2 linked regions of the Homo sapiens genome follow. The protein of the gene in region 1 interacts with the protein of each later gene in a biochemical or structural test. Each region holds a gene or a part of one and is shown in the gene's direction. Other genes may lie near its edges. The genes, in order: PRKAG2 and SLC31A1.

The links.
Region 2: of the proteins of PRKAG2 (region 1) and SLC31A1, one has a biochemical effect on the other in vitro, tested with the Homo sapiens proteins (one study listed by BioGRID).

Annotation. Positions count from the first base shown.
Region 1 is NC_000007.14:151,865,534-151,874,852, reverse strand, and holds part of PRKAG2 (5'-AMP-activated protein kinase subunit gamma-2), read left to right. Parts: intron 1-9,319. UniProt on the Homo sapiens protein: AMP/ATP-binding subunit of AMP-activated protein kinase (AMPK), an energy sensor protein kinase that plays a key role in regulating cellular energy metabolism.
Region 2 is NC_000009.12:113,223,504-113,232,822, forward strand, and holds part of SLC31A1 (high affinity copper uptake protein 1), read left to right. Parts: intron 1-9,319.

The DNA of each region.
Region 1 (9,319 bases):
CAGTGGTGCAATCATGGCTCACTGCAGCCTCAACCTCCCCAGGCTCAAGTGATCCTCCCACCTCAGCCTCCTGAGTAACTGGGACTACAGGCATGTGCCACCACACCCATCTAATTTATTTATTTTTTTTGTAGACATGAGGTTTTACCATGTTGCCCAAAGCTGGTCCACATGAGCTGGGCTCGAGTGACCCGCCCACCTTGACCTCTCAAAGTGCTGGGATTACAGGCGTGAGCCATCACACCCATCCCGGGAAAACTCTTGACAAGTGTAAAGTGTCCTATAAATGTATGGCTTATACATATACATATACATATACATATACATCATATACATATACATATACATCATATACATATACATCATATACATATACATCATATACATATACATATACATCATATACATATACATATACATCATATACATATACATATACATCATATACATATACATATACATCATATACATATACATCATATACATATACATATACATCATATACATATACATATACATCATATACATATACATCATATACATATACATATACATCATATACATATACATATATATCATATACATATACATATACATCATATACATATACATATACATCATATACATATACATCATATACATATACATATACATCATATACATATACATATACATATACATCATATACATATACATCATATACATATACATATATACATATACATCATATACATATACATATACATCATATACATATACATCATATACATATACATATACATCATATACATATACATATACATACATATACATCATATACATATACATCATATACATATACTTATACATATACATCATATACATATACATATACATCATATACATATACATATACATCAGACACCTAGTTTTTTAAAAAAATATATAGAGAGAAACAAGAACATGCCATTGTCCAGTGGTTGGGCCATTTTGTGTGGCAGCCACATGCTGAGGCTGGTTCCAAATGCAGGGTGTGAGTGATGTGTGGGCGTGCCCGTGGGGTGGTGCCAGCGATAGTGTGAGACAAAATCCAGAACCAGAAAAAGGACTGTGAGGCCAGGCCGTGAACGTTGAAAAACCATGTTATAGTTGGGGTCCTCGGACCACCCTTCTTGCTGCCAGTGGTGACTTTGGCAGCTTTTCATAACGTTCTTGGCATGAGCCAGCCCACCGCGAAAGTAGTATTCATTCAGTTATTCCACAGTGGCTGAGGGTGACCACGTGCCCAGGCTCTGGTTAGGGTGAGATCTGGGGAAGATCTGCCCAAGTCCTCACAGGGCTTGCAGTTGCTTTGGGTACCAGGGAGGTCCCCTCATCTGCCTAATGGTCATTACCTATGGATCATTGTGCCAGGCTAGGTGGCAGTTATAACCTCGCTGGGAAAATGAGGCTTTCAGACAAAGGCTAGCAAATGATCCAGGGTCATACGATGGCCAGTGCAGACCACACCTGTTTCTAGAGGCAGAAGGAGCGATGACAGTGGCCTGATGTGTTTAGAGAGACTTTACACCCAGAGATGGCAGGCAGGAGTCACGTAGAAGTGGGGGTGATACTCCCACTAAGGAACCAGTGGGAGCACCCCACAGAATCGGGCGGGAGGGGATGGCTGCTTCCAGGTGAAGAGCCACGCCTCCTGGCGAAAGGGTTTGAGAGCTAGAGTCATAGGAAATGCTTTGAGACTGGATCAGGAAGGACCTGGACATAGGGTTGCCAGCTGTAGTAACTAAAAATACAAGATGCCTAGTTGAATCTAGATTTCAGGTAGACAATGAATCATGTTTTAGCATAGGTATGCGCCATACAATATTTGGGAAATACTAAAAAGTATCCATTGTTGATGTGAAATCCCAGATTAATGGGGGCGTCCTGTATTTGATCTGGCAATGCTGCCTTGAAGACCAGGCCTAAGGCGTGAGGACCCCCTCCTGAAGGCGTGAAGAAGCTGCGGTGGACGCTGTGGATAGCCTCCTCCTGGTGCCTGGGGCCCAGCCCACCCTCACCTGCAGCCTTGGTGGACTGCCTCTTACTCGTGTCTCCCTCCCCACCTGAAGGAATCCTCTCAGACCCTGGCAGCTTGCTCAGCCTAGTGCAGGAACCCCTGGAAGTGCTGGGATTATGCCCTGAGGGGCAACCCTCAACCCAGGAGGGGTCCAGTTGGTGGCCAATGGCCCAGCCGCCCTGCTGCTCAGTGGGAAGTTCTGACCTGGGTTCTGCAGGATGCCTCAGGGGATCCCTAGCAGGGTGGGGATCCACAGTGTAACCCACTCGTTAATGCACCTTACTGGCCCTTCTGGCCAGTTCCTGCCTCAGTTTCCCCATTCCCTTGTCTGCACTCCCTGGGATAAACTCCTGAACCTAAGTTCCTGTCTGAGTGTCTTTTCTGGGGGGACCTGAACTAAGAAGCCATTAAAGGTAAAGAAAACAGCATTCCATGGGAATCAGCCTGGAAAAGTGTACAGAGTGGAGTGATGGGAAACGGGCTGGTGTCAAGGAAACCAACTCAAGTACTTTGGCAAAAGCCCCCCCCCAGGGTAAGGGTCCGAGGGCCTGAACTGCAGCTGTGATGAGAGAATGCAGAAGGGCAGACGTGGGACGTGAGAAGGCCAGCCTAGTGGATGGCAAGGGGTTGAGGTGGCAGGAACTGATGTGGAGGTATTTGGGATAAGGGGCCGGTTCTTGGGGGAAATGATGAGTCTGGTCATAGCCCGGGTGTGTCTCAGCAGAGGGCAGCACGTCCATGGGGAATCACATTTGCTTCCTCACCCCAGCCTCAGAGGACTGTGGTGTGCAGGGACTGCCACTGCCAAGGACATCTTGGATTCTGAGGAGTAATAACTCTTGAAAGACACTGTGGCCCTGGCTGGCCTGTGACTGGGGTCATTTGGTGGCCTCCTCGGACCCCTAGTGCCCAAGCAGCTTGTCTCTTCATTGAATTGGATTGAGTCGTTTTGGGGACCTCAGCCTCCAGCCCATATCATAAACAGAACCGTGGCCTAGGGTGTTGGAGGCAATTGTTGCAAACCTCCTCTCTCGGGCTCTGATGATTTTGAATGTCCCCACTGCCCGCTTCCTGTCAACAGCCCATCTAGGCTTTGGGACACCAGGAAGGAAGAATCCATTTTAGGGGACAGCCTAGGGCCAGTGGGTAGTGGACGGTGGTGGAGACCTAGAACTACTAAGTAATTTATCAATTGAATTCGGTTGATGGCTGTGTACTGGGGAAGGGAACGTGGCCCTTGGACCTAACGAAGGTGTCGCCTTGCTTGGCTTCAGCCTTTCTTGGGCATTTTGGGTCACCTTTATGGGCACAGCTCCAGGGTCTTGGAGGAGGAGGGGGAGGATGCAATGGAGAGGAAGGGGAAGGACTGACGGCACATTCTATCCTGAGGCCATGCTGGCCTTTCAAAGTAGCAAAGGGCCGTAGAGGTCAGAGTCCTGGCCTGTTGGCATCCCGCCTTGGCTCCCTGCTCTGAGCCTCCATGCCTCTTGTAAGGCATGGCTGATTATGAAGGTGATGGGAATGGTTTTAGGAAGTAACTCACTGGAAGCGTAGCTGTGCGTGGTGTTCTGCCGAGACTTTGGTAGCAAGCGTGCTCTTTCTCCCTTATGTCGGTCTAAGAAAAAGCAGCTTCCCTATTAGTGCTAAAGTTCATAGACCCCATAGACATGCTTTAATCAAGGCTGGCTGCCATGTCGTGTGTCTCTGGAACTGTTTCAAGCCAATGACAGAGCTGGAGACCCAGGGAGAGGGAAGACGTCAGAGAGATGGACCCAAGGCAGAAGTCTTTGGGGACACTGAGGCAGGCTGGAGGAGTTCAGATGGTTGCTGCTGAGTGGGGCATTTCTGTCAGAATGTACATGTCGCTGGCCCTCTGGGGAGAGGTGCTCCAGAAAGCCTGCACAGTCGCTGGAGACAAACTAAAAGTAGAGCCAGGGAGCTGGGCAGTCACAACGTTTGCAGAGATGGGGCTGGGCTTGGGCGGGCCTGTTGCCAGCGGTGCCTCCCCCCGCCGCGTGGCCTCAAGGGAAGCCCCGCGCTGCGAGAAGGCCACGCACCCTCCGAGCTGGTGATGGCCTGGGACCTTTGCACCCAGCTCCTGCCCCATAGCCTCTATCCGGCTGGAATGAGCCAGTTTGGGAACTCCAGGATGAGGGTGGGAAGGGGAGCCCCGTCCTGCCCCGGGGCTGGAGGATCGAACCGTGACAGTGCTTTGTGCCCCTCACACCACTGAAACGCTCCGGATGGAAGCCTCCGCAAAGGGAAGGGGGATGCTGTGTGGCACAGTGGACGTGTCAGCTTTGACCTTGGCCAGTTTGTACCATCCTGAGCAAGATTTGCTGGATTAGGGTTTAGGGCAATGTTTAACAAAGTGTGGTTCATGGACTAGCTTATGTAGAAGCTCCCAGTGTTTGTTTAGAATATAAAATTCTGCTTCGTAGCCCAGACTTACTGAATCAGAATGCCTGAGGGTGGGACCCATGAGTTTGCATTTTTCTTAAGTTCTCCGGTGATTCTTGTACCTACTGGGGCTTAAAAACAACTGGGTACTATTAATAGCTTCCCTGGTGTAATACTGTTCCATTTCTTCTGCCCCCATGAGTTATTCCTCTGTCTGCCTGCCTGCCTGCCTGCCTGCCTGCCTGCCTGCCTGCCTGCCTATCTATCTATCTATCTATCTATCTATCTATCTATCTATCTATCATCTGCACCTTTTCAGCTGTCATTGAGAAGAGATATCCTTGACTTTTGACTATTCAACAAAGGCAATTCAACATTTGGCTTCCAAATAAAGATGAATGCCCAAACCAGCCTGTAGCCAGAGCTGCCTGTGTGGGCCAGCCCGTTAGGCCACGCTGCAAGCTTTCTTGACTCAGCCCTTCAGTGGCTTCATGCATCTTAGATGCCCTGCCGTAAGCTCCAATAGGGCCCAGAGTATGCTATGGGAACCTTCAGTAGTCAAGCTTCTTGGTGATGGGGTCCTCAGACTGGCCTGTGGCTCCAGGGTTTTTGATGAAGCTTGGTTGCCGCTCTGCAGCACGCTGGGTGTGAGAGGGCTGATCAGCGAGGGTCGTCCTCAGTGGGGCACGGCACATTGGCCCAATGCCGCTTGAGCACGGCCCAGTGCTGGTCCTGGAGGGAACGGGCAGCTAGACAGTGATGCGTGATCACTTCCTCAAAGACTCTACCACACAGAGGGCGCAGGGACACCCACAGAGCAGCTCACATGGGGGAATAGTGCGGAGCCTGCACAAACCCATGGGCCTGCAGAGTCACATGCTCAGTGCCTTGCGGGAGTCACCTTGGAGCTGCCTCGTCCTCTTATCCCTACTTCACAAATGCCCAGCTGAGAAAAAGCCTGTTCATCATTACATGGTAGATGACAGGGTTAATTACAGTGGAGGTGAAATATGCATCTCTGCCCTCATCTAGCCCCCGCTGCCCTATTCGCGCTTGGTCCTGGTACCTCTTTGTGGAGGGTTCCAAGATTCTTATATAAACGAGGCTCTACATACTGCAGAGGAGCAGCCTACTGATGAATGCAAAGAGTTAAATCCTGGATCATGATTTCCCAGCTCGAGTACTGAATTAACATAAACAGAAGCAGCAGCCAGCAGAGTTGGTGGGTTCAATCGATATTGCATCTTTTCACATGTCACAAACTTGTTAGGAGTCTCAGTGCATTGCTAGTGTCTTTTCCTGCCTCTTTTCTTTGAACTGCCCCCCCCAATAAAACCTCTCAGAACAATATTGCTAGTTTGCACTCAGGGTTTGCAATTTGGACTGTGCTGAACACTAGACTGGCGAAAGAAATCATTTGGAAGCACTTTTTATTTGCCAACGCCTCTTCATCTACTCAGACTTCGCTTACGTAATTTGTAAATCAGTTTGTATCTTCTAAAACCTTCAGGCAAATACATGTGCTCTTAAATATTCCTGTTTCTTGGCTGTTTATTTTCTTTTGCTCTCCCTGTTTTCCTATAAGAGCTGATTTTGGTGTATTCAGCTCATGGCCAGTGTCTTTCTGTTTCTAGGCACCTTTTTACATTTATGGGGGCTGCTAAGGTTACCGAGTAGAGCCACAGACACTGACAGGAGCCGAGTGAGAATGTGGCTCACCCGTTCTCCTCCCTCCGCCCTCCCTTCGGCCAAAATGGGACCAATGAACGTGATCACCGATGAAGCACCAGCTGTCTGCCGTCCTTTCAGGACGGTGAACCAGCCCATCCTGATAACCCCACAGTTCTGTCAACGTCGTTTAAAATGCGCAACAAACAAAGGCCGATGGGCAGCTGAGCTGTGACGTTGAAACAGAGTGGTGACTTTGCTTGGTTCTTTAACCGTGACTCGCTCTGAGATGAGCAGAGGGGCCACCTGAGAGTTCAGCTGCGTCCTTCGGGCTTAACCATACGGAGTTCTTAGAAGCCCCCACTGTTACTCATTGCATGGCTTATGCCCCCAGACCAGAGGAAGGGGTTAGCTATTAACGAGCTGAGCTTCCCCAGTAGAAGAAGGTGATTTGGTGGAACTGTATTTTAGCCCTGCCTTGGAATGGTTAATTGGAATCTCACTCATCTCTTTCTTCCACTACCTACTTTGAAAATAATTTAATCCCTGTCCTTTACTTCCTGTTGACAGGAAGCCCTCTCTGCCAACCCATGGCTGGTCACGGACCAATCGGCTATCACCAGGCTTTGGGGCGTCTGCCAGGGCCTCTGTGTTTTGATATACTCTGACCTGGCAGTGAAGCTGCTGATGAATGCACGACAAAGACCAGTTTGCTCCGTAACCCCAGGCTCCCAGCGTCTTTTCCATGAGCCAAAGGCCTGGTCCTGGAGGGGGGTGCCCTGCAGCTCTGCTGGCCTTCTTCCAGGGGAGTTCATTGCTGGGGGTGGCCCTGCAGTGACCTCCACTGTGCTGGGGAGGGGAAGAAGAAGGATGCAACAGGGTGAGGGGAGAATTTGAGAAAATAGGATGCAAATTCTCCACTTGTGAATAAAGAAATAGAGAGCCATTGCTAAGAACTATGTTTACGCAGGGTTAGTGCTGGGACCAGAAACCAGTCAACTCGTTTCTGTGTGCTTTCCAGGGACTGGGCTGGGTGTCGAGGACACAAAGATGAACAGTGCGATGGAATTGGATTCTCCAAAAAAAAGGTCGAAGTCCCACACCCTCTGCACCCCATACCTGTGAATGGGACCTTCTTTGAGATGGGGTTTTTGCAGATGTGATTAACATATAGATTAGGATGAGGCCATTAGGACCGGCCCTCATCCACTATGCCTGGAGTCCTTCTAAGAAGAGGGAAGTTGCATCCAGAGGCACAGGCAAGAAGGCCTGTGAGGGCGGAGGCAGAGATTGCAGAGCTGCTGCCACGAGCCTCGGAATATGGGCCGCTGAAGGGTGGAAGAGGCAAGGAAGGATCCTCCCGGAGGTTTCGGAGGGCGTGTGGCTCTCACAGCACCTTGATTTCAGACCTCTGGCCTCTAGAGCAATGAGAGAATCCATTCTGTTTTAAAGCCCCCAGTATGTGGTGCCGCATTATCACAGCCCAGGAACCTAATCCAACAGGGCCCTGCCCTCAAAGCACAGCGCAGCCACAGCCTCCGTCCGATAGAGCTGTAGGGCAGGGGCTTGCACTGAGGGGCTCCATGGCATGGCCTGGAGAGGTGGCCAAGGCCCCAGGAAGGGGTCCCAGCGTCCCACTGCCCACAGCACTTTGACACTCCCTTCCAAGGTCTGGGTCTTTCCTTGCGTCCCCTCCTCCCACTGCTGGAAGTTCTAGTGTGGAGGGGCTGTGAGAAAACCAACGTAACGTGACAGAGGCTGGTGTGGCAGCTCTGGGACCCAGGCCTGCTCCCTCTGTCCAGAGCACTTCCTCTTTGCCTGCTCTCCCCTCCTGGGTGGCCACCAAGACTTAGCCTCCTGGGGCCAGGGGTGCAGAGGTGTGTGCGAGGGGTGGGGGTGGGAGGACAGCTCTGTCACCTGCTCAACTTCCAGAAGACGGGCAGGCAGGCAGGCTCCACACAGCCATTTGCCTATTGGGCTAATGTGGAAACCATTTACTCAGCTCCACCCTGCTCACCACCTCAGCCATGCCAGCAGCCATGGGGTGGTGGGCTTGAAGCATACATCACCTGGGCCCCATCCTCATCTATAGCATATGTTGTAATAAGCACCCCAGAGAGCCTTCTTCCTCCATGCAACCTAGATACGCTTGATGGGGAGTTGCATTCATGGTGCTGATGACCGATCAATATTCTTGATTGTATCAGATACCATCTGGGGTGGCATGGTTTTCAACAGATTGAGCTAATATTGCTGAAGCACTTGTTATATGCCAGACGTGTGCTTTTATATGAGCCGTCTCTCTTTATCTCTAAAGTAATATGTGAAATATTAGTATTGTTATTAGTCTTATTATCCTTAATGTAGAAAAGACAGTGTAAGGTTCACAACCATTCTAGCCCAACCTGCTGAGAAAAGTCTCTGTTGTGTCTTGTCAGGTTTTTGATATCTCTGCTTGGCTATGGCCCAGATGCCCCACGAGCAGCCAAGGCCTCCCTGGGGTAGGGGATGAGGCTGGACGGTCAGGCTGAGGCTGGACGGTGGGCCCAGAGAGGGCGGCGTCTGCTGCCTCCCTTCGGTTTGCCCTGTGTGTGTCAGGTCTCCATACGCTTCACTTGGCCCCTTTCTAGATGAAGGTCATTGAAGGTTATTCTTTACCCTTCTTATCTCAAAAATAAATAACCTGTCTTCTCCACTTTCTTTTCTTTTTCTTTTTTTTTTTTTTTTGAGACAGAGTCTTGCTCTGTCACCCAAGCTGGAGTGCAGTGGTGCGATCTCCGCTCACTGCAAGCTCCGCCTCCCAGGTTCACACCATTCTCCTGCCTCAGCCTCCCGAGTAGCTGGGTCTACGGGCGCCCGCCACCACACCCAGCTAATTTTTTGTATTTTTTAATAGAGACGGGGTTTCACCGTGTTAGCCAGGATGGTCTCAATCTCCTGACCTCATGATCCGCCCGCCTTGGCCTCCCAAAGTGCTGGGATTACAGGCGTGAGCCACTGCGCCCGGCCTCTTCTCCACTTTCATAGGTTCCAGTCTCTGGTTCTTCTTTCTCAGTTTGTTGTTTTTGCTTCTTAAATAATGGAGATTAGAATGAACACTACACTCGGAATCAGGAAGCCCTGCCTGGCGCCTCTGTCACCTGTCTAGGGGCTTCTTCTCACTGAGTCATCCAGTATTGACCGCAGCCTGTTGTGTGCCAGGCACAGGGGTCT
Region 2 (9,319 bases), on another chromosome or scaffold:
GAGTAACTGCTGGGGATACAAAGGTAAGTAAGGCACAACCTTGATCTCAAGTTTAAAGTAAGCATTTTTGTTTATTTGTTTTGCTTAAGTATACAACTTTTAGAATACTCATAAAATATATTGTCAACCCCCAGAAGATTGGCCAGGAAGCAGCAATTTTTTTTCTCCACCCTCCACTCCCCTTACTCCCTCAGGGAAGCAGCAATTTTAATAATTATTTTCAAATTATCAGCAATTTTGCAACAGAGATGACAGTCTTTATATACGAGTATACCCATACTAATCTGTAATGATGCATGCATTTTAAAATTAGTAGTTTAAAGTTATAACCAAGTTATATCAGGCATAATGATAGGAATATGAATTAAATGCAGGTTCTAGGGGATCTATAACATTCCGTTCACTCAGTCACTGAAAGCAGACTTAGGGCCATTAGTTGGTTAACTGAAGAAGTAAGTTAAAGCAGGGAATCATACAGATAATAGTTATATGCATAACATTTTAACGAACACATAAACATTCTTTTGCCATTCTTTTAACATAAGGCCTCAGCCTTTTCTTGGAGTGTAGGACCCTGTTGCCTGTTTTTATAAGTAAAGCTTTATTAGAACACAGCCTTTCTCATTTGTTTATGTATTGTCTATGACTCCTCTTACCCTCCAAGGCAGAATTGAATATTTGTGATTGCAACAGAAACCACATGGCCTGCAACATCTAAAATGTTTACTTTTGGCCCTTTATAGAAAGAGCTTGCTAGCCCCTGGCCTACGTTATCTATGGTATTTTTAACATGGAATGAATACTTAAAGTCACTTGCAAAGCAGTCTCACTGCAGAATCTTTCTAGGTGTTTATGAAATGTCCTTCCAGACTTTTCTGTTGTCTCCCACACCTAACAGCAAGTTTATGTGTTATCTGTATGCTCACTTTTTTTTTTTTTTTTGAGACAGAGTTTCGCTCTTGTTGCCCAGGCTTGAATGCAATGGCACAATCTCGGCTCACCACAACCTCCACCTCCCGGGTTCAAGCGATTCTCCAGCCTCACCCTCCCGAGTAGCTGGGATTACAGGCATGTGCCACCATGCCCGGCTAATTTTGTATTTTTAGTAGAGACGGGGTTTCTCCATGTTGGTCAGGCTGGTCTGGAACTCCCGACCTCAGGTGATCCACCCGCCTTGGCCTCCCAAAGTGCTAGGATTAGAGGCGTGGGCCAACGCACCCGGCCTTGTGTGCTCACTTTTATCTGGTCTTTCGAAAGCATTCAGTGTGGTGTTTTAGAAATAACTACTAGAGAGTCTATGTAGTACAGTAGTTAAGTACTTGAGCTCTGGAGCCAAATTGCTTTGCCACTTATTAGTTGTATAGGCCATAGACAAGTTACTCAGTTTTTGCCTTTGTAAAACAGGCATAATGGTAGTATCCATTTCTAGGTTTCTTGTGAATATTATAGGAGTTAATTCATGTAAAGCATTTAGAACAGTGCCTGGCAGGTAGTAAGTACTCAGTGTTAATTGCTGCTGTCATTTTTCTCTTCTCATTTATACTTCATTGCTTTACATAGTATTTACGTACTTTCAGTAATAAGCACAACTGGCATAAATAGGTTTGTGAATAAACACACTGTCACCATTGATAAGCACACTTCACAGAGGGGGAACCAGAAGTGTTGTTCCCATCACATTGGAGAATAGCCTAATGGTGTGATGTCAGTTAAATTGGATAAGAGAGTTCTGTGGGATAGTTTGCTAAGAGTATAAGGCAACAGTTCACAGAAGAAAGTAATGGATTAAAATTGAAAAGGAATCCAGGACCATATTTGTCAAATACCTTGAAGGTCAAGGTGACAAGTTTGTACTTAGATTGGTAGGAAGTGGAATTTTTTATTCTAAATGGCATGATTGATGTAAAAAAGTTCAAATGGCTTAGGAGTGTATGAAGTAAAAAGTTACATTTCCCTAGCTCCATTCCATGTCAGTAGCCACTTCATTTTCTAATGGCCCCTAGAACATGAGGTTGTTGTGAAGGCATGGTAAACACCACTTGGGGCACTGGTATTAATCTGTTAAAATTTTCAATTCAGCTTTCCTTTGGATTATAATCTCAATTTTGAATTGAGAAAAATAAAGTTTCCATACTAAATGTGAATAAAATGAAATGACTGTTTTGAAAGTAGATACCATACTCATAAGAGTCTTTGATTCCTAAGTCTTTCTCTACCTCTTTTGTCCAACTTGGAAGTCTTGGTAGAGAAGGACTTAGGAATCAGAGACTCATCTCTACTGTTAATTCCTTTTTGCACCTTTCCCACCAGAAGTGCTACAAGAGAGAAAGATGATATAATAATCACTAGAAAAGCAAAGTGTTCGGCCAGGTGTGGTGGCTCCCGCCTGTAATCCCAGCTCAGGCAGATCACCTGAGGTCAGGAGTTCGAGACCAGCCTGGCCAACATGGTGAAACCCCGTGTCTGCTGAAAATACAAAAATTAGTCAGGCATGGTGGCGGGCACCTGTAGTCCCAGCTACTCAGGAGACGGAGGCACGAGAATTGCTTGAGCTCCGGAGAGGCGGAGGTTGCAGTGAGCTGAGGTCACGCCACTGTGCGCCAACCTGGGCGACAGAGTGAGACTCCATCTCAAAAAAAAAAAAAAAGAAATAAAGAAAGCAAAGTGTTTACAGTGACAAGTTGATTTCAACTAGCAGTTGTCAGTTAAGTTAGTAACAGGGCATCACCCAAATAACTGCATTTTAAAGTGGACAGGGCAGGCCTGACTGGGGAAAAGGGAGGGAAGGGGTAGGGGGTTCCTGATGCCTGTACTCCCACATGCAGCTCTTAAATCCATTTTAAAAACTTAAAAGTTTTCTGTAGTTTTGTGACTTAAGTATAACAAGTCATCAAAAGTCTGATACTTAATACATTACAATGAACAGTTTATGCCAAAAGAAATCTTATAGTAGGGCCTGGGAAGGAAATGCTTTTGAAGTTCCATTGCTTTGAGTAATATCATTTTATGATTTAGGTAACATCCCCAAGCAGAGGAGGGGCCCATCCTTAGGAATGCAAAGCCCTGCAGAGAAGGAAAGGGTTGAGAAGGGTCCACCCTACCTCTTTTCCTTTACACAATGGCCCTAGGCTTTTGTATACAACCTGCTTTTGTAGGCTTAGGACATTATGAAATACAGCATGGTAAGATGGAAGCCTGAATCTCAAAAGTAAATATGAGAAATGATTTGGAGGGAACATATAAAGAGAGCAAAATTCTAGCAACAGGTGACATATTTCCCTAGATAGAAGAGTTATTGTAGAACTATGATGAGTGTTTATATAATTTTGAAGCAGTTTACAGCATCTAGAATGTAGTCATTTAATTTATGAAATGAAAGGGAAATGGTGTAACTCATACACCCGCATCCTCTCTCCTACCTTTTCTGATGGCTTTTTATGAGTTCTCACACAACCCCTATGCATAATCTATACCTTAGTACATTTTACATTATTTTTAAATTATTTACATGTGTCCCTCTTTCACCAGAATGGGTTTCTTATGGTTAGAGTTTCATCATGGTACCTTCATTCGATAGGTATGCAATAAATAGTGAAAGAATAGTCTGAGTTCCTTGAAATTGCATAGCAAATGAGACCTAAGAGCCAGATCTAGAATGCAGATGTAGAACCTCTTTCAGTTCCTAGCCCAGTACTTTTACTGCCACACCATACAGCCTCTATCTGAGATATTGAACAATTTTTTTCTTTTTTCTTTTATTTTTTCTTGAAACAGGATCTTGCTTTGTTGCCCAGGCTGGAGTGCAGGAGCACAATCTCAGCTCACTGCAACCTCTGTCTCCCAGGCTCAAGCAATCTTCCCATCTCAGCCTTTCGAGTAGCCGGGACTACAGGCATGCACCACCACGCCCAGCTAATTTTTTGTATTTTTGATAGAGTCGGGGCTTTGCCATGTTGCCCAGGCTGGTCTCAAACTCCTGAGCTTAAGCAGTCTGCCCACCTTGGCCTCTTAGAGTGCTGGGATTACAGGCATGAGCCACCATGTCCAGCCTCATTTGCATTCTTGTACTGCATTTTCATTAAATCATTCAAGTTCCTTTTATCTTGTGTAACATATTTAATTGCATTTTCCTACTGAATAAAAAAAAGGGAACAGTTCAAATGTTTTCTAGTTTCTGTCTTATGCCATATTAATTTCCAATATTACTCATAGGCAAACCAACAACATTATTATCCAAACAGTTTAAATGCTATGTAATATAACTAAAGCAAAGTTTAGACAAGGAGGACCATTGTCTACATTTGATTATAACAATAAAGCAGTTAAAGCAATGCTTTGCCAATGTATATTTGTCTGACTAGCTAGTTTTGTTTAAATCAAACTGTGAAAGGCTGTATACTTCAAGAAACATGAAAGTGAGCCTTATGTGTGACTTAGTTCCTTTCAGAGATTAATTTTGTCATCTAATGAGCAAGCAAGCTATTATATTTCATATTTACTGTACCTTAAAATTGGAAAGTATTTAACATATTTTATTTGACCCTTACAATACTATGAGATTGGCAGCGTAGGTATTTTAATATCTGTTTTGCAAATTTTGCAAATTTTGGTGATTTGCCTAATGTCACATGGCTAGTATATGGCAAATGTGGGTCCAGAGCTCAGAGCCTTTGATGCCTCGTGCTGCATGCTTTCTCCACTCTAAGATACTATCTAGAAAACACTGAAATTGTCACATAAATCATACTAAAGCACAGTTAGCGGACTGGAAGTGCGTCAAGGCTACAAAAGGATCCTGTAAGAGGAGCATGAAAGGGTGCATCATGTGATTACATTATTCCAGGATGTGGCTTACCCAACAACAAAAGGTATCACAGAAATGGAGTAAAGTAGCTGGGAGATCCACTCCCCATTGGACTTAGGCCCTGTTATCATTACATAACTAAAAGACCTTTTCAGTTTGTTTGTTTGACATATCAAATTTGAGTTGTCCTATTAGAACCAGGCAAATAAAAGCTTTTGTAAAGGCCTTTGGAAGAATGTAGTTGTACACTTGATCTTCTTTGTACAGAAGGGTGGGAGTGGGCAAGAGAAATAGGAGCTTCTATGTTATTTGCCACCAGAACAGGATATGTAAAGCTCAGAAACCCATCCTGCTTAGCTGCTTCCCAGCAAGCCATCCGGAGAAATGGGGCTGGAGAAAGCGGTTAGTCTAGTGTTATGGAGCCTTCTATCAGAAGCAGATGTTATGGATTCACCTAACTAAAGAATGTTAGTGTCATCATTTAATAACATAAGCCTCAGTTTCCACATCTGTAAAATAAAGGAGTTGGATTTGATGATACTTTTTTTTTTCTTTTGAGTTGGAGTTTCGCTCTTGTTGCCCAGGCTGAAGTGCAATAGTGTGATCTCGGCTCATTGCAACCTCTGCCTCCTGGGTTCAAGTGATTCTCCTGCCTTAGCCTCCCTAGTATCTGGGATTACAGGCATGTGCCACCACGACCGGCTGATTTTATATTTTTAGTAGAGATGGCGTTTCTCCATGTTGGTCAGGCTGGTCTTGAACTCCTGACCTCAGGTGATCCGCCCGCCATGGCCTCCCAAAGTGCTGGGATTATAGGCGTGATCCACTGCGCCTGACTGATAATTTAATTTTTTAAATAGGAAATATATTCATATGGTTTGTAATTCAAAAAGTACACAAGGATATTCAGTGAAAAGTATTTCATTTACTCCTACCCACTTCTGACCAGCTCTCCTTAGGGACCACGGTCCTATTTTGCCTCCCAGGCTCAACCAACAACTTTGTTGTTTCCCCCCAACTCCCCTGCAGATAGTATAGGTGTATAAAAATAACATGAACATACTCTGTTTCCTTTTTAAGTTTTTTACAAATTATAGCATACAGTATATTCTGCTTTTATTTCATTTCATAATACGTCTTACAGATCATTCTATATCAATATATATGATCGTTCTCATTCTTATTCTGCTAAGTATTCCATTGTATGAAAATATGATAACTCATTTAATCAGTGCCCTATCAATGAACATTTAGGTTGTATTTTTAATATTTTGCTATTACAAACACTCCTGTTATAAGTAACTTTGTACATACACATTTCACATATGTGCCAGTTTATCTGTAGAATGAATATTTAGAAGTGGGATTACTGTGTTAAAGAATGTGGGCAGACTGATGACTGTTCTAGTTTTGATCTTCTATGAGACTTTAACTGAAAATGATTAGTGGAAAAGAAAAAGTATCATTTTCTTGGTAATATCTTAATTTTTATCTCTTACTATTCAGAACTAAGTCTTAAGTAAGAGCCAAGAATAGGTAATCTCTCCAAAATTATGTTGAATTGCAGACTTCACTAAAGTCACCTGCATCATGGTCTTGTAGATTTTTCTATTGCTTTTCAGTATAATACTATTCAAGCTATTTGCAAGGTGAATATTATAAACTCAGAACAAAAGGAGACTGTCTCCCAACTATGTTTACTAGCATTTACCAAGTAGAGGATTCAGAAGATTTGCTCTTTATTACAATTTATGTAGGGAGTGAAGATGGAAAGATGAAACAAAGAGAGCCTAACAAATATCTGCCTCTGTCTGTGTTTTACTGTCTTCCCAAATTTTTGGATGGTTATGAGGTGTGTGATAACTTTACAAAGTGTATGATACCATAACAATTACTAATCTTTTGGGGATTTGTTTGTTTGTTCGTTTGTTTGAGAGACAGAGTCTTGGTCTGTCGCCCAGGCTGGAGTGCGGTGGCGCGATCTCAGCTCACTGCAGCCTCAACCTCCCTGGCTCAGGCTATCCTCCTGCCTCAGCCTACCAAAGTAGTACAAAAGTAGATCCTATGGCCTCAGCCTATAGCTGAGACTACAGGCATGCATCTCCACGCCTGGCTACTTTTCTTGATTTTTTGAGGAGACAAGGCCTCACTATGTTGCCCGGGCTGGTCTTGAACTCCTGGACTCAAGAGATCCTTCCACCTCAGCCTCCCAAAGTTCTGGGATTATAGGCATGAGCCACTGTACCCTGCCTGTTTTGTTTTTAATTAATACATAATAATTGTACATATTTATGGGGTACAGTGTGATATTTTAATACGTATATAAATTGCATAATGATCAAACGATGGTGTTTAGCGTATACATCACCTCAAACATTTATCATTTCTTTATGGTAAGAACATTCAGAATTCTCTCTTCTAGATATTTTGAAATAGCCACAATAACATTGTTTACTATAGTCACTAGTCTTTTGGGGAAGCTAGGGACCATAAAGCAGATCAGAATTGTATCAGCCCCTCATGCTTTCTTGACTATAACCTACTAACTTTTCTTTTCTCCCCATCTCACCTCCCTCATTCTCTTTCTAGGTACAATAAGCCATTTGTGAAATTTTCCCTGTTCAATAGCAAGTTTAAGCCAGAGCCTCCATCCTTTCCATCTCTGAATTCCCTATAGCCTCTGGGGCAGAGGGTACTTCATAATACTTGTTGAGTTGAATTGAGGTAGATGTCAAAGTGATCTGACCTCACTTTGCTCCCCTCTCAAGTGCCATATCCTTCCTTTTCCCTGCTCAGCCTTGACACACCTATCAAGCCATCCCTTTGCATGCTTAATTTGGTTCAGGAAAGGACAAGAGACCAAGTAAATTATCTTGAAGAGGAGTCTGTGTCTGCCTATGTTTAAGTAAATGCGCACACACACCTATCTTTCTGGCTCCTGCTGCCATTCTTTGTGTTGCGCTTAAAAATTGGGGGCCGGGTACGGTGGCTTACACCTGTAATCCGAGCATTTTGGGAGACTGAGGCAGAAGAATCACTTAAGGGCTGGAGTTCAAGACCAGCCTGGGCAACATAGGGAGACCCCTTCTCTACAAAAAGTTTTAAAATTAGCTGAGCATAATGGTATGTACCTATGTTCCCAGCTACTCTGGAGGCTGAGGTGGGAGGATCACTTGAGCCCAGGAGGTGTAGGCCGCAGTGAGCTGTAATCATGCTACTGCACTCCAGCCGGGACAACAGAATATGATCTTGTCTCAAAAAAAAAAAAAATGGGGAAATTATTTATTTAGTTATGCATTAGTGGTAGCTGTGGAGTTAGGCACACCTGGTAGGAACAGCATTGGAATGTATAATTCAAAATACACATGTATCTTTTTATTCACATGAATTCCATTTTATGTGTATGAAATCATCAAGATCAAAGTGAATATTAGATGAATATGAACTCTAGCTTATTGGACATTTAGAAGATAGAGTTTGATTAGTGTTGATTTTTTTTTATTTTAGATTTTAAAAACTTGTCTATGGGCCATACGTTAAGTACTCATAGTATCTCTGTGGAAGAGTTCTGATAAACTCTGGGATAGGCGATAGCCAGGCCCACATGTGGACTATAACTCCTGTAAAGTTACAGATAACAGAATTATATGGTCTAACATGCAGCTCACTTAGGCAGTCCTACCTTTCCAAATGTTTTCTTCAATGCCATATTCCCAGGGAAAATTGCTGCTGGGTAGTTGAAACTAGGTGCCTCACTGGACTTCTTCCTATTATTTGGGCAACTTGTAAAAGCTTACAAACTTTCTAGAAAGTAGCCCTGAAAACAGTTCCTTCGTTATGTTTTTAGCAATACCACAGAATACATGGTTCTATGTTATAGCTTAGAATTGCTACTACTCTTACAAAATTGGAACATAGAAAAGATGGACAAAAACCTAGTATAATGTATCATTATTTCCATTTCAAGATGGCGTTTTGAACTCATCTCTTTTCCTTCCCAAAATCCTAGTGAAATTATCATAGGAATATGAAGAAGCATTATTTATAGTCAGAAAACAGGGAGAAAGAAGCCAGAAACTTTAAAACATTTCAAAGAAAATGTGATACAGATGGGAATCAAATTGAAAAAAATGACTGACCACCTGATTCAACATAGATAAAGGCCATCTCTGTCGGTAAATTTAAATGGGTTAGATTCATTTGCACACCCCTGCAAGCTCCCAAATCAAGAACAGCAGAGATGGCCAGGCACGGTGGCTTACACTGGTAATCTCAGCACTTTGGGAGGCTAAGGCGTGTGGATCACCTGAGGTCAGGAGTTTGAGACCAGCCTGGCCAACATGGTGAAACCCCATCTCTACTAAAAATTAAAAAAAAAAAAAAAAAACTAGTCAGGTGTGGTGGCGGGCACCCATAATCCCAGCCACTTGGTAGGCTGAGGCAGGACAATCACTTGAACCCAGGAGGTGGAGGTTGCAGTGAGCCGAGATCGCACCACTGCACTCCAGCCTGGGT